Linked DNA regions of Homo sapiens: region 2 is linked to region 1. Evidence: fine-mapped expression QTL. Tissue or cell type: lymphoblastoid cells. Region 1 holds a variant in brackets; the other region holds the start of a gene. All regions are shown on one strand. Distances are between the middles of the regions. Region 1 holds the start of SRSF9 (serine and arginine rich splicing factor 9). Region 2 holds the start of GATC (glutamyl-tRNA amidotransferase subunit C).

Region 1 (5,368 bases):
GGCTGAGGCAGGCGGATCACGAGGTCAGGAGATTGAGATCATCCTGGCTAACACGGTGAAACCCTGTCTCTACTAAAAATATAAAAAAATCAGCCGGGCGTGGTGGCAGGCACCTGTAGTCCCAGCTACTCAGGAGGCTGAGGCGGGAGAATGGCATGAACCTGGGAGGCGGAGCTTGCAGTGAGCCGAGATCACGCCACTGCACTGCAGCCTGGGTGACAGTGTAAGACTCCGTCTCAAAACAAACAAACAAAAAATCCTACAAGCAGAATTACAAGATCGAAGGGTATATGTATATTATGAAAGCCTGATGTATACTATCAACTTGTATTCCAAAAAAGATATACACTCAGTAGTATATGTGGGTGTCTAGTCTTTGGTTTGTTTTGATTTTAAAATGCTCAGATGGTATAATGAGAAATCAACTACCTTCTGATTAAATGTGTGGTTTTAGTCCCTTTTTTTGTTTGTTTTTGTTTTGTCTTGTTTTTGAGACAGAGTCTCCCTCTGTCACCCAGGCTGGAGGAGTGCAGTGGCACAATCTCGGCTCACTGCAACCTCTGCCTCCCAGATTCAAGCGATTCTCGTGCCTCATCCTCCCAAGCAGCTGGGACTACAGGCGTGCCACCAAGCTTGGCTAATTTTTTTTTTTTTTTGTATTTTTAGTAGGGGGGCGGGTCTTGCCATGTTGGCCAGGCTGGTCTTGAACTCCTGGCCTCAAGTGATCCACCCACCTCAGCCTCCTAAAGTGCTGGGATTACAGGCATGAGCCACCACGCCCAGCCAGGTTTCATTTTTAATATGAAAAATCTTTATTTATTTTTGAGACAGTCTCACTCTGTCACCCAGGCTGAAGTGCAGTGGCATGATCTCGGCTCACTGCAACCTTCGCCTCCCGGGCTCAAGCAATTCTCCTGCCTCAGCCTCCCGCGTAACTGGGATTATAGGAACACGCCACCACGCCCAGCTAATTTTTGTATTTTTAGTAGAAACGGGGTTTCCCCATGTTGCCCAGGCTAGTCTCGAACTACTGACCTCAAGTGATCCTCCCGCCTTGGCCTCTCAAAGTGTTGGGATTACAGGCGTGAGCCACCGCACCCAGCCTGAACAATCTTTAGGTTAGGAGTATTCCAGCCGGGCGCCGGGCTCAAGCCGGTAATCCAACACTTTGGGAGGCCAAGGCTGGAGGATCGGTTGAGCCCAGGAGTTCGAGACCAGCCTCTCTACAAAAAAAATAGAAAATAAACTAGCTGGACGCAGCGCAGACCCCTCACGGCGCCCCGAGGTGGGAGGATCACCTGAGTCCAGCGAGATCGAGACTGCAGTGAGCCGTGTTCGCGCCATTGCACTCCAGCCTGAGCAACAGAATAAGACCCTGTATCAAAAACAAACAAAAAGTCTTCTGGTGCAAGGCCTCACTGTAAGGTCCCTGGGTTCAATGCTCCGCGTTCTGGGATGTGAATGTGGAAAAGTAAGTGCCAAGGTGGGTGTCTACCTGAGCTCCATAAGGACTCAGTACTTAGGATGGGAGCATGGCTCTGGGTTCCATTCCTGACCCCTCTGTGGCCTCAGACTCTGCCCGGGAGAGGATGAAAAGCACAAGTCGGATGCACTCTATAGTGATCGCTGTGATACTCATTAAGAGTCTTACTCCCTCGACTCCGACAAACTCAAGGCCAAGCTATGGAGTCCATCTCATGCTGACACCGTCAGTTCTGAGCAACTGTAAAATGGGGACAGGGTGGCCCGGGGGCCTACTGACCTGAGGTGGGGGCCGCGACAGCCCGGCCGCTGCGGGGTCAGCCTGCGGTCTCCGCCTGACTCCAGCTCTCCTGCGCCCCGCAGGCCCTGGGCGCTACCCACGTCAGTGAGTGCTCACAAGTCTGTGAGGTAGGCGGCGCCACAGAGAGAAACTGAGGCGCGGGAGCCCAAGCCACTTGTCCAGCGCCTCAGCCGAGCGCGAACCGCGCTCGGGGATGGCATCCACACGGCCCGGCCCCAGGCTCTCCCTGTCAGCGCCCGAAGGCCCTTCGCACCTCCAGGGGGCGCCGGCCTGCGCGCACGCGCAATGGTCGCAGCCGCGTTCTCTTTAAGAGGACTCCTTTTGCCTCCGCCGACCCCTTCGCTTCCGCTCCGCGTTCCCACAATGCAGTGCGGCTGAGCGCCTCGGAGCCCGCGGGGACGCTGCGGGGGGACCCGTGCTGAGGCGGCGGCGGCGACGTGGGCTGCGGCGGGCCCGCGGCGTCGGGCGGTGCGGATGTCGGGCTGGGCGGACGAGCGCGGCGGCGAGGGCGACGGGCGCATCTACGTGGGGAACCTTCCGACCGACGTGCGCGAGAAGGACTTGGAGGACCTGTTCTACAAGTACGGCCGCATCCGCGAGATCGAGCTCAAGAACCGGCACGGCCTCGTGCCCTTCGCCTTCGTGCGCTTCGAGGACCCCCGGTGAGGCCCCCGCGCCCCTGCCCTCTCCTCCTCGGTGCCTGAGGCCCCCGCCTTCCCTGCTGTCCCCTCCCCCAGGGCTCCCCTCCCCCCGGCCTCCCCTCCCCCCGCCTCCGCGCAGACCCCTCACGGCGCCCCCTCACGGGTGGAGGATGAGGCAGCCTCTCCTCGCAGGCCCGGGCCGTCCTTCGCGCCGTCGTCACTTCCTTTATTTTTATTATTCCAATATTTTACTTAGAAACCCAAAAGCTGAGCCTTTGGAGGGCCCAAGCCCGCCTGCACCGGCCTCGGGGGGTCCAAATGAGCCTTGTCCGCCT[C/T]CTGCCTGGGGCAGCACCGTAGGGGGAAGCGGCCGCGGGGCAGCGCGGGGGTCGCCGTTCGCCCTTCCCGCTCGCCTCTCCCCCGGCCCGTGCTCGCCGTGGCTGGAGAGCAAGCTGCAGGGTCGCGGATGCCGCTGGAGGTCGTGGAGGGATCTCTGGTGGAATAGCTCGCCGTTCGCGCGCCCCGCCCCGCAGGCCAGGGCCCGGGCTTTGTAAAGGGATCACGGATTCGGGAAAACTTCTAAAACAGCCGGAGTGGGGCTCTGATTTCACTTCCCTCCTTTGATGAGGGAGGCTTGGCGAGATGCTAAAGGTTCCAGGGATTTGGAAACTCTAGATTCCTAACCCCGCTCTAAGGAGTGCTTGTGATTTTGCAAACAGCGTCGGCCCTCAGGCCGGAAAAAGCCCAGGAACTTTCAAAACTGTGGTTGGTGGTGGTTAGCAGCTGCGGCGCTGACCTGGTCACTCCACTCCGGCCAAATAAGAGCCCGCACCCTGTTTTCCTAGCATCATTTGCTCCCGGGGAACGCGGAATGTTCGTAGGGTGTCCGACCTACCTGGGGTGGACGTATTGATAGGGCAAGGGGAGCATCTGAGGAAGGGCAGGCAGGAAGCACCGCGAGGCGTTGATGGCTGAAGAGTCGACTCTGACAGCTCATCCCTAGTATCTCCTCATTTGCCTCAAAACCGGAACTGGGCATTTTTACCCCTAAGCCGGAGAAGGCTATGCCTCGCTTATTTAGTAACCGTGCCATTGTGGTTTTTCAACAGTTGCTATGGGTCAAGTGCCATGGTGTGTATTTAGCTTTTTTTCTTTCCTTCTTATTTTTTTAGATTGATAAATTAGGGGTTTCACCATGTTGCTCAGGCTGGTCTGGAACTCCTGAGCTCAGGTGATTCTCCCGTCTCAGCGGATCAAATTGTTAGGATTACAGGCGTGAGCAACCCGCCCAGCCTGTATTTAGTATTTTTAACAATTTATGAGGTGTAGGTACTATTTTTTTTTTTTTTTTGAGACAGGTCTTCACTCTTGTTGCCCAGGCTGGAGTGCTGTGGTGCGATCCCGGCCCACCGCAACCTCCGCCACCTGAGTTCAAGCGATTCTCCCGCTTCAGCTTCCCAGTAGCTGGGATTACAGGCGCCCGCCATCATGCCTGGCTGATTTTTCTATGTTCAGCAGATACGGGGTTTCTCCATGTTGGCCAGGTTTGTCTTGAACTCCTAACCTCAAGTGATCCACCCACCTCAGCCTCCCAAAATGCTGAGGTTACAGGCCTGAGCCACCACGCCAGGCCGGGATCAATGGATTTGAACTCCCTCTTCTGTTTTTCGAATGCAAACTTACTATATGATACGCTACATTGTCATCTTCCCTCATTCCTTTCATAATAGAAAAACTATCTTTTGGTGTCACTAGATGTGAAGATTCAAGCAAAGCATTTCATGTAGTATCTTATTTAACCATTACAATAACCCTGTGAGATAGGCATACTGTTCACATTAGAGATGTAAAAACTTGATTAAACACTTACCCAGAGATGACTACTAGTAATTTGCAGAATAGTGATTTGAATGCAGGCTAATTTTATTTATTTATTGTATTTATTGAGATGGAGTCTGGCTCTGTCGTGCAGGCTGGAGTGTAGCGGCACAGTCTCAGCTCACTGCAACCTTCGCCTCCTGGGTTCAAGAGATTCTCGTGCCTCAGCCTCCTGAGTAGCTGGGATTACAGCTGCGCGATGCCATGCCCAGCTAATTTTTATCTTTTTAGTAGAGACGAGGGGTTTCACCAGGTTGCCCAGACTGGTCTCAAGCTGCTAACCTCAAGTGATCCACCTCCCAAAGTGCTGGGATTACAGGCATGTGCCACAGCGCCTGGCCTGAATGCTGGCCAGTTTTTATTCAGAGTTGTTCTGACCTCCTAGCAGTTCTGCCTCTCCCAGTCTGCATTTTACGTAGTCAAGGTTGCACTGGATATGGTCATTGTTGCTTTTAGTTCTAAAATCTTACAAGTGATTATGTGCCTGTGACACTGAACAATGCCTTCATTAGCACATTCAGCTCCTCTTGTCCACCCAAGCTCCAAGGTCACACTTTCTACCATCCAATACTGGAGAATCAACGTGGCATTCCTGACTCTCCTAGAGTCCTAGGAAAGACTTAAAGTAATTTTATTGAATATTTATCTCTTTTGGCAAAATTGTATCCAAAGAATGTTTTTTGACAAAAATAGTTCTCCAAACCATGCTGAAAAGGTACACTTAGAGTTCCAAGGCCAGGCGCAGTGGCTTATGCCTGTAATCCTAGCACTTTGGGAGACTGAGGGGAAGGATCGCCTGAGCCCAGGAGTTCAAGACCAGGCTGGCCAGCAGAGGGAGACCTGTCTCTACAAAAAATCCAAAAATTAGCTGGGTGCAGTGGTACACGCCTGTGGCCCTAGCTATTCAGGAGGCTGAGGTGGGAGGATTGCTTGCGCCCAAGAGTTAGAAGCTGCTGTGAGTTATGCTCCAGCCACTGCACTCAGCCTTGGTGACAGAGCAAGACCCCGTTTCAAAAAAAAAAAAAGTTCCACATTCATCACAAAACACTCATTTGCATTTTTCTTTTGT
Region 2 (5,368 bases), 22 kb after region 1:
GGCAAGAGAATCTCAAACCCAGGAGGCAGAGGTTGCAGTGAGCCGAGATCACGCCACTGCCTCCAGCGTGGGCAACAGAGTGAGACTCCATCTCAAAAAAACAAAACAAAACAAAACAAAACACATTTACTGAATACTCAGTGCCAACCACTGAGAACATGATAAGGAAAAACAGACATGCTGTGGAAGGTGGGTGAGCAGGAGAGGGGCAGAGACTCAACACATCCCTTAAATAGATGTATAAACGCATGTATAAATCAGCCCTTTTGGATATCACGAGAGCCACAGGTAGAGAACCTAAGTATAGCCAGGCACAGTGGCTCACGCCTGTAATCAGCACCTTTGGGAGGCTGAGGTGGGCAGATCACGAGGTCAGGAGATCGAGACCATCTTGGCTACGGTGAAACCTCATCTCTACTAAAAATACAAAAAATTAGCCAGGCGTGGTAGTGGGCACTTGTAGACCCAGCTACTTGGGAGGCTGAGGCAGGAGAATGGCATGAACCCAGGAGGCGGAACTTGCAGTGAGCCAAGATCACGCCACTGCACTCCAGCCTCAGCGACAGAGCGAGACTCTTGTCTCAATTAAAAAAAAAAAAAAAGAACCTAAGTATAAAAGAATGAAGACTTGTGGCTCACGCCTATAATCCCAGCACTTTGGGAGGCCGAGGCGGGTGGACTGTGAGGTCATGAGTTCGAGACCAGCCTGGCCAACATGGTGAAACCCCGTCTCTATTAAAAATACAAAAATTAGCTGGGCGTGGTGGCGGGCGCCTGTAGTCCCAGCTACTCGGGAGGCTGAGGCAAGAGAATCACTTGAAACCGGAAGGTGGAGGTTGCAGTGAGCTGAGATTGCACCACTGTACTCCAGCCTGGGTGGAAGAGTGAAACTCCGTCTCAAAAAAAAAAAAAAAAAAAAAGGAATGGACTTTTTTGGCCAGTGCAGTGACTCATACCTGTAATCCCAGCACTTTGGGAGGCGAAGATGGGCGGATCACTTGAGGCCAGGGGTTCGAGACCAGCCTGGTCAACATGGTGAAACCCTGTCTCTACTAAAAATGCAAAAACTAGCTGAGTGTGGTGGCGGGTGCCTGTAATCCCAGCTACTCCGGAGGCTGAGGCACAAAAATCACTTGAACCTGGAGGGTGGAGGTTGCAGTGAGCCAAGATCATGCCACTGCACTCCAGCCTGGGTGATGGGGCAGGACTCCACCTCAAAAAAAAAAAAAAACTTTCTTGAGGAAGTGGGAGGCTGAGGCAGGAGGATTGCTTGAGACCAGGAGTTTGAGACCATATGGGGCAACATGGCAAGACCCCGTTTCTACAAAAATTTTAAGTATTAGCCAGGTGTGGTGGTGCACACCTATAGTCCCAGCTATTTGGGAGGCTGAGGCAGGAGGATCTCTTGAGTCTAGAAGTTTGCGACCAGCCTGGGCAACATAGTGAGACCCCGTCCCAAAGGAAAAAGAAAATTGCAAAGTAGAGAAGACATTTGAAAGAATCAAACACGGCCAGGTGCTGTGGCTCATGCCTGTAATCCCAGTACTTTAGGAGGCTGAGATGGGTGGATCACCTTTGCTCAGGAGTCCAGACAAGCCTGGGGAACATGGCAAAATCCCGTCTCTATCAAAAATACAAAAAATTAGCCAGGCCAAGTGGCACGCGCCTGTGGTCCTGTACTTGGGAGGCTGAGATGGGAGGCTCTCTTGAGTCTGGGAGGTGGACATTACAATGAGCTGAGATCATGCCACTGCACTCTAACCTGGGTGATAGAGTGAGACTCCATCTCAAAAACAAATAAAATAAAAATTCAAGGCAGGAATAAAACAGTAACTACATAATGAGCTCACATTTTAATAAAAGAGATATAACAAATGAACAAAAGTCCATTAAAATGTTAGGGAAAAAACCCAATAGGATGAGTTACTAACTAGAAGGGGAGAAGGGATTTGGAGTGGTTAGGAGAGCCCTTTCTGAGAAGATAAGCTGAGACCTGTGCCAAGAGGGAGGCAGCCATGCAAATACTGAGAGGAAGGAAAAAAACGAAGGGCCAGTGCAGAGATCTAGAGAGGAAAAGAACTTGTCTTGCTGGAGAAGCAGTCAAGGTAGCCAAGGAGAGTACTGAGAAGAGTACGTTGGAGTGAGTAGGTAGGGACTCTATGGAGTAGGGCCTTAAAGGCGATGATTAGGCCAGGCGCGGTGGCTCACACCTGTAATCCCAGCACTTTGGGAGGCCGAGGCGGGTGGATCACGGTCAGGAGTTCAAGACCAACCTGGCCAAGATGGTGAAACCACGTCTCTACTAAAAATACAAAAAAAATAAGCCGGGCCTGGTGGCAGTCGCCTGTAATCCCAGCTACTCGGGAGGCTGAGGCAGAGAATTGCTTGAACACGGGAGGCGGAGGTTGCAGTGAGCCGAGATCGAGCCACTGCACTCCAGCCTAGGCAACACAGCGAGACTCCGTCTCAAAAAAAAAAAAACAAAACAAACAAACAAAAAAAAAAACAAAGGCAGTGATTAGCAGTTCGGGTTTTGTTTCCACTTACACTAGCGAGAGCATCAGTAATGAACAAGGGGAAGAGTGAAGCCACTGACTCGCGAGGTGACTGTGGGCAAGTTCCTGAATCTTGCTAACACTCTTTAACCCCCTGGAAAACTGTTCGCTAATCGTCACATTAAACGGCTGCGAACGGGCCACGGTCAAGGCTTCGGGGCTGCAGCCGCGAGTTTACCTGTCCTCCAGGACCGATTCCATGGGCTCCACCCCGTCTGTGTCCACGGCGCGTAGCCGGTCGGCGAAGGCGATAGCTTTCTCCAGTCGCGCCACTGCCTCGCGGCTGCCGAAGTCCACAAGCGCTAGACGCTCCAGGTGCTCGATCACCGCAGCCGTGATCCGGCCACTGCCCTGGAGGAGGGATGAGGCGGGGAGTGTGGGTCACCGGCGCTCCGAAGTGCCTCCCGGCTTGCTCCGCCACCCGCCTAGATGGCCCTGGCCTTTACCTGAGGATCCGCCTTGGAGGTGAAGCCCTGGCGCCCGCCCAGAGGGGCCCGAAGGCCCAGCCACACCAACCGCGACCACATTTCTTCCTTCCTTGGCCCCCGCAGTGCGCCCGCGCGTAACGCCGAGCGACGCGCCTGAGAGTGATGACATCAGAGTGCGCCGTCGTCGCCGCCGCCACCACTGTCGCCATGAACAGTGTGGGGGAGGCATGCACGGACATGAAGCGCGAGTACGACCAGTGCTTCAATCGCTGGTTCGCCGAGAAATTTCTCAAGGGGGACAGCTCCGGGGACCCGTGCACCGACCTCTTCAAGCGCTACCAGCAGTGTGTTCAGGTGAGCCCTCCCGCCTCTGTTCCCAGGCCCTGCATTCTCGGCGCTGTGTCCCACCACACTCATCGTATTTTACGGGGATTGGGACTGGACTGGAAGGGTGGAGAAAAGTCGCAGTGAGGCCAGTGGCAGGAGCTCGCTCCCCTACCATCACCACCGAGGCCACTTGGGTGTCTCTCCGAATGACAAATATTGGGGCAGTGCTTTTCAAGAAGCACAGTCACATCCTTTGGTTCATTTGGTGTTCACCCTAAACTCGCAAGGTGGGCATAGTTACTCATATTTTATACATAAAAAACTAACACCCAGAAATAGGAAGTGATTAATCCGAGTTCACTAGCATCAGGTTTCCTTGGTTCTTTCGCAGGTGGTGCACTTTTCCACTATTACTGCTGGGGTCTGGGCGGGATTATACTTCAGAATTCAGACTGGAGGGTCACATTTTTTTGTTGTTATAAACCCTTCGTTAGCCTGTTTCTCTCTCTTGACCAGTCCCCGCAACTGCAGCCAGGAAATGTTTATTCTGGCCCAATGGATGTGGAACTGCTTTGAATTGTTAAGAACAGCACCGGGCAAAGCACTTCCAATAAGTTAACCCAACACATCCTCACAGCAATTCCCCGAGGTAGTTGCTGTCTTCATCCCATTTACAGTTAGTCACATAGCCAGTAAGTCCTGGAACCCAGATTTGAACCTAAGTCTTTCACTAACACAAAGTGATGATTATTTTTCAAATTTCACTTAATTTTAACGGTTCCCTCACAACTCCTTTTCCAGTCTCCCTCAGGTCTTACACTTGATTTATTCATTATGGTACTTCTGGTTTTTATTTATTTTTGAGGCAGAGTCTCACTCTGTCTCCCAGCCTGGAGTGCAATGGCACAATCTCAGCTCACTGCAACCTCCGCCTCCCAGGTTCAAGCTATTCTCATGCCTCAGCCACCCGAGTAGCTGGGCTTACAGGCATGCGCCACCATGCCCAGCTAATTTTTGTATTTTTAGTATAAACAGGGTCTCGCCATGTTGGCCAGGTTGGTCTCTAACTTCTGGCCTCAAGTGATCCACCTGCCTTGGTCTCCCAAAATGCTGCGATTATAGGCGTGAGCCACCACACCTGACCGGTACTTGTTTTTTAAAAAGTATGTGGTTTGAATCATGGTTATAAGTCTTTATAATCAGCTTGATTTTACTTTTGTACTGTCATATTTTATTTACAAAGCTTGCAACTTAAGCTTCATGTAGGTCTTTATAATGTGTTTTCTCCTCCTACCAGAAAGCAATAAAGGAGAAAGAGATTCCTATTGAAGGACTGGAGTTCATGGGCCATGGCAAAGAAAAGCCTGAAAATTCTTCTTGACCTTGACAGTCACCTTGAAGGATTTCGCAAGTCCAGAAATTGAGGACTCTGGATTTTTGTCAACTAACTCTGTGAACATAGCCATCAGATTTGATGAGGAACTTAGGAGAGAGGAGTTTTATTTCCTCCTTCGATGTTTTCCTCTCAGTTGTAAAAGATGAACTCTTTGAGATGATTTCTCACCTGCTGTGGTATCTTGCAGGAACTGTGTGCTAAAATTGAACAATTTTTTTGAGATTATGGTTGCAATACTTGGCGTGGAATCAGCTTTACATAAATATACCTTGTATGCAAACGATGATAAACTAGTCAGGATGAGCAGAGCTGCCTGACCTCTTGATTTCTGCTGCAAAAGACATATACACTGTACTGGGGTCACTATTTATGAAAGCAATTGGTTAGGACCTCTTTTTTTCCTCTCAGGGAACTAATGCTCTGAAAAGGGATCTGGGCACAACAGTTTCAGTGAGTGCTTTTGAGCACACTTTTATTTTTATATAGTAACTAATGGTTAAGATTGATGGTGGCCTGGATTAGCAAAGAGGAAGACAGCTTTTAACACAGTTCCCTGCCTTCACAAGAGGTGTCAGATTAAGATGTGAAAGCTGCAAGAATGTTGCAGTGAACACCATTTCAGAGCTCTCAGTGTGCAGTTCAGGAATTAAGATACTTGGAAT

Evidence for each region.
Region 2: it holds the start of GATC, and the variant in region 1 is fine-mapped to the expression of GATC in lymphoblastoid cells (GTEx, PIP above 0.99).

The regions. Positions count from the first base shown.
Region 1 is chr12:120,466,499-120,471,866 of GRCh38, reverse strand. It overlaps SRSF9 (serine and arginine rich splicing factor 9), which reads left to right and starts at 2,119. Exons shown (of 4, transcript NM_003769.3): 1 at 2,119-2,445. The coding sequence starts at 2,258. It also overlaps a transcript of DYNLL1 not described here. RefSeq lists silencers at 2,161-2,460, 2,711-2,880. The variant C/T (reference allele first, on the strand shown) is at 2,760.
Region 2 is chr12:120,444,195-120,449,562 of GRCh38, reverse strand. It overlaps GATC (glutamyl-tRNA amidotransferase subunit C), which reads right to left and starts at 3,119. Exons shown (of 4, transcript NM_176818.3): 1 at 3,002-3,119; 2 at 2,734-2,906. The coding sequence starts at 3,082. It overlaps TRIAP1 (TP53 regulated inhibitor of apoptosis 1), which reads left to right and starts at 3,179. Exons shown (of 2, transcript NM_016399.3): 1 at 3,179-3,337; 2 at 4,608-5,368. The coding sequence starts at 3,191. The coding sequence ends at 4,691. RefSeq lists enhancers at 2,304-3,149, 2,983-3,277, 2,875-3,424, 2,639-3,838, 3,150-3,997.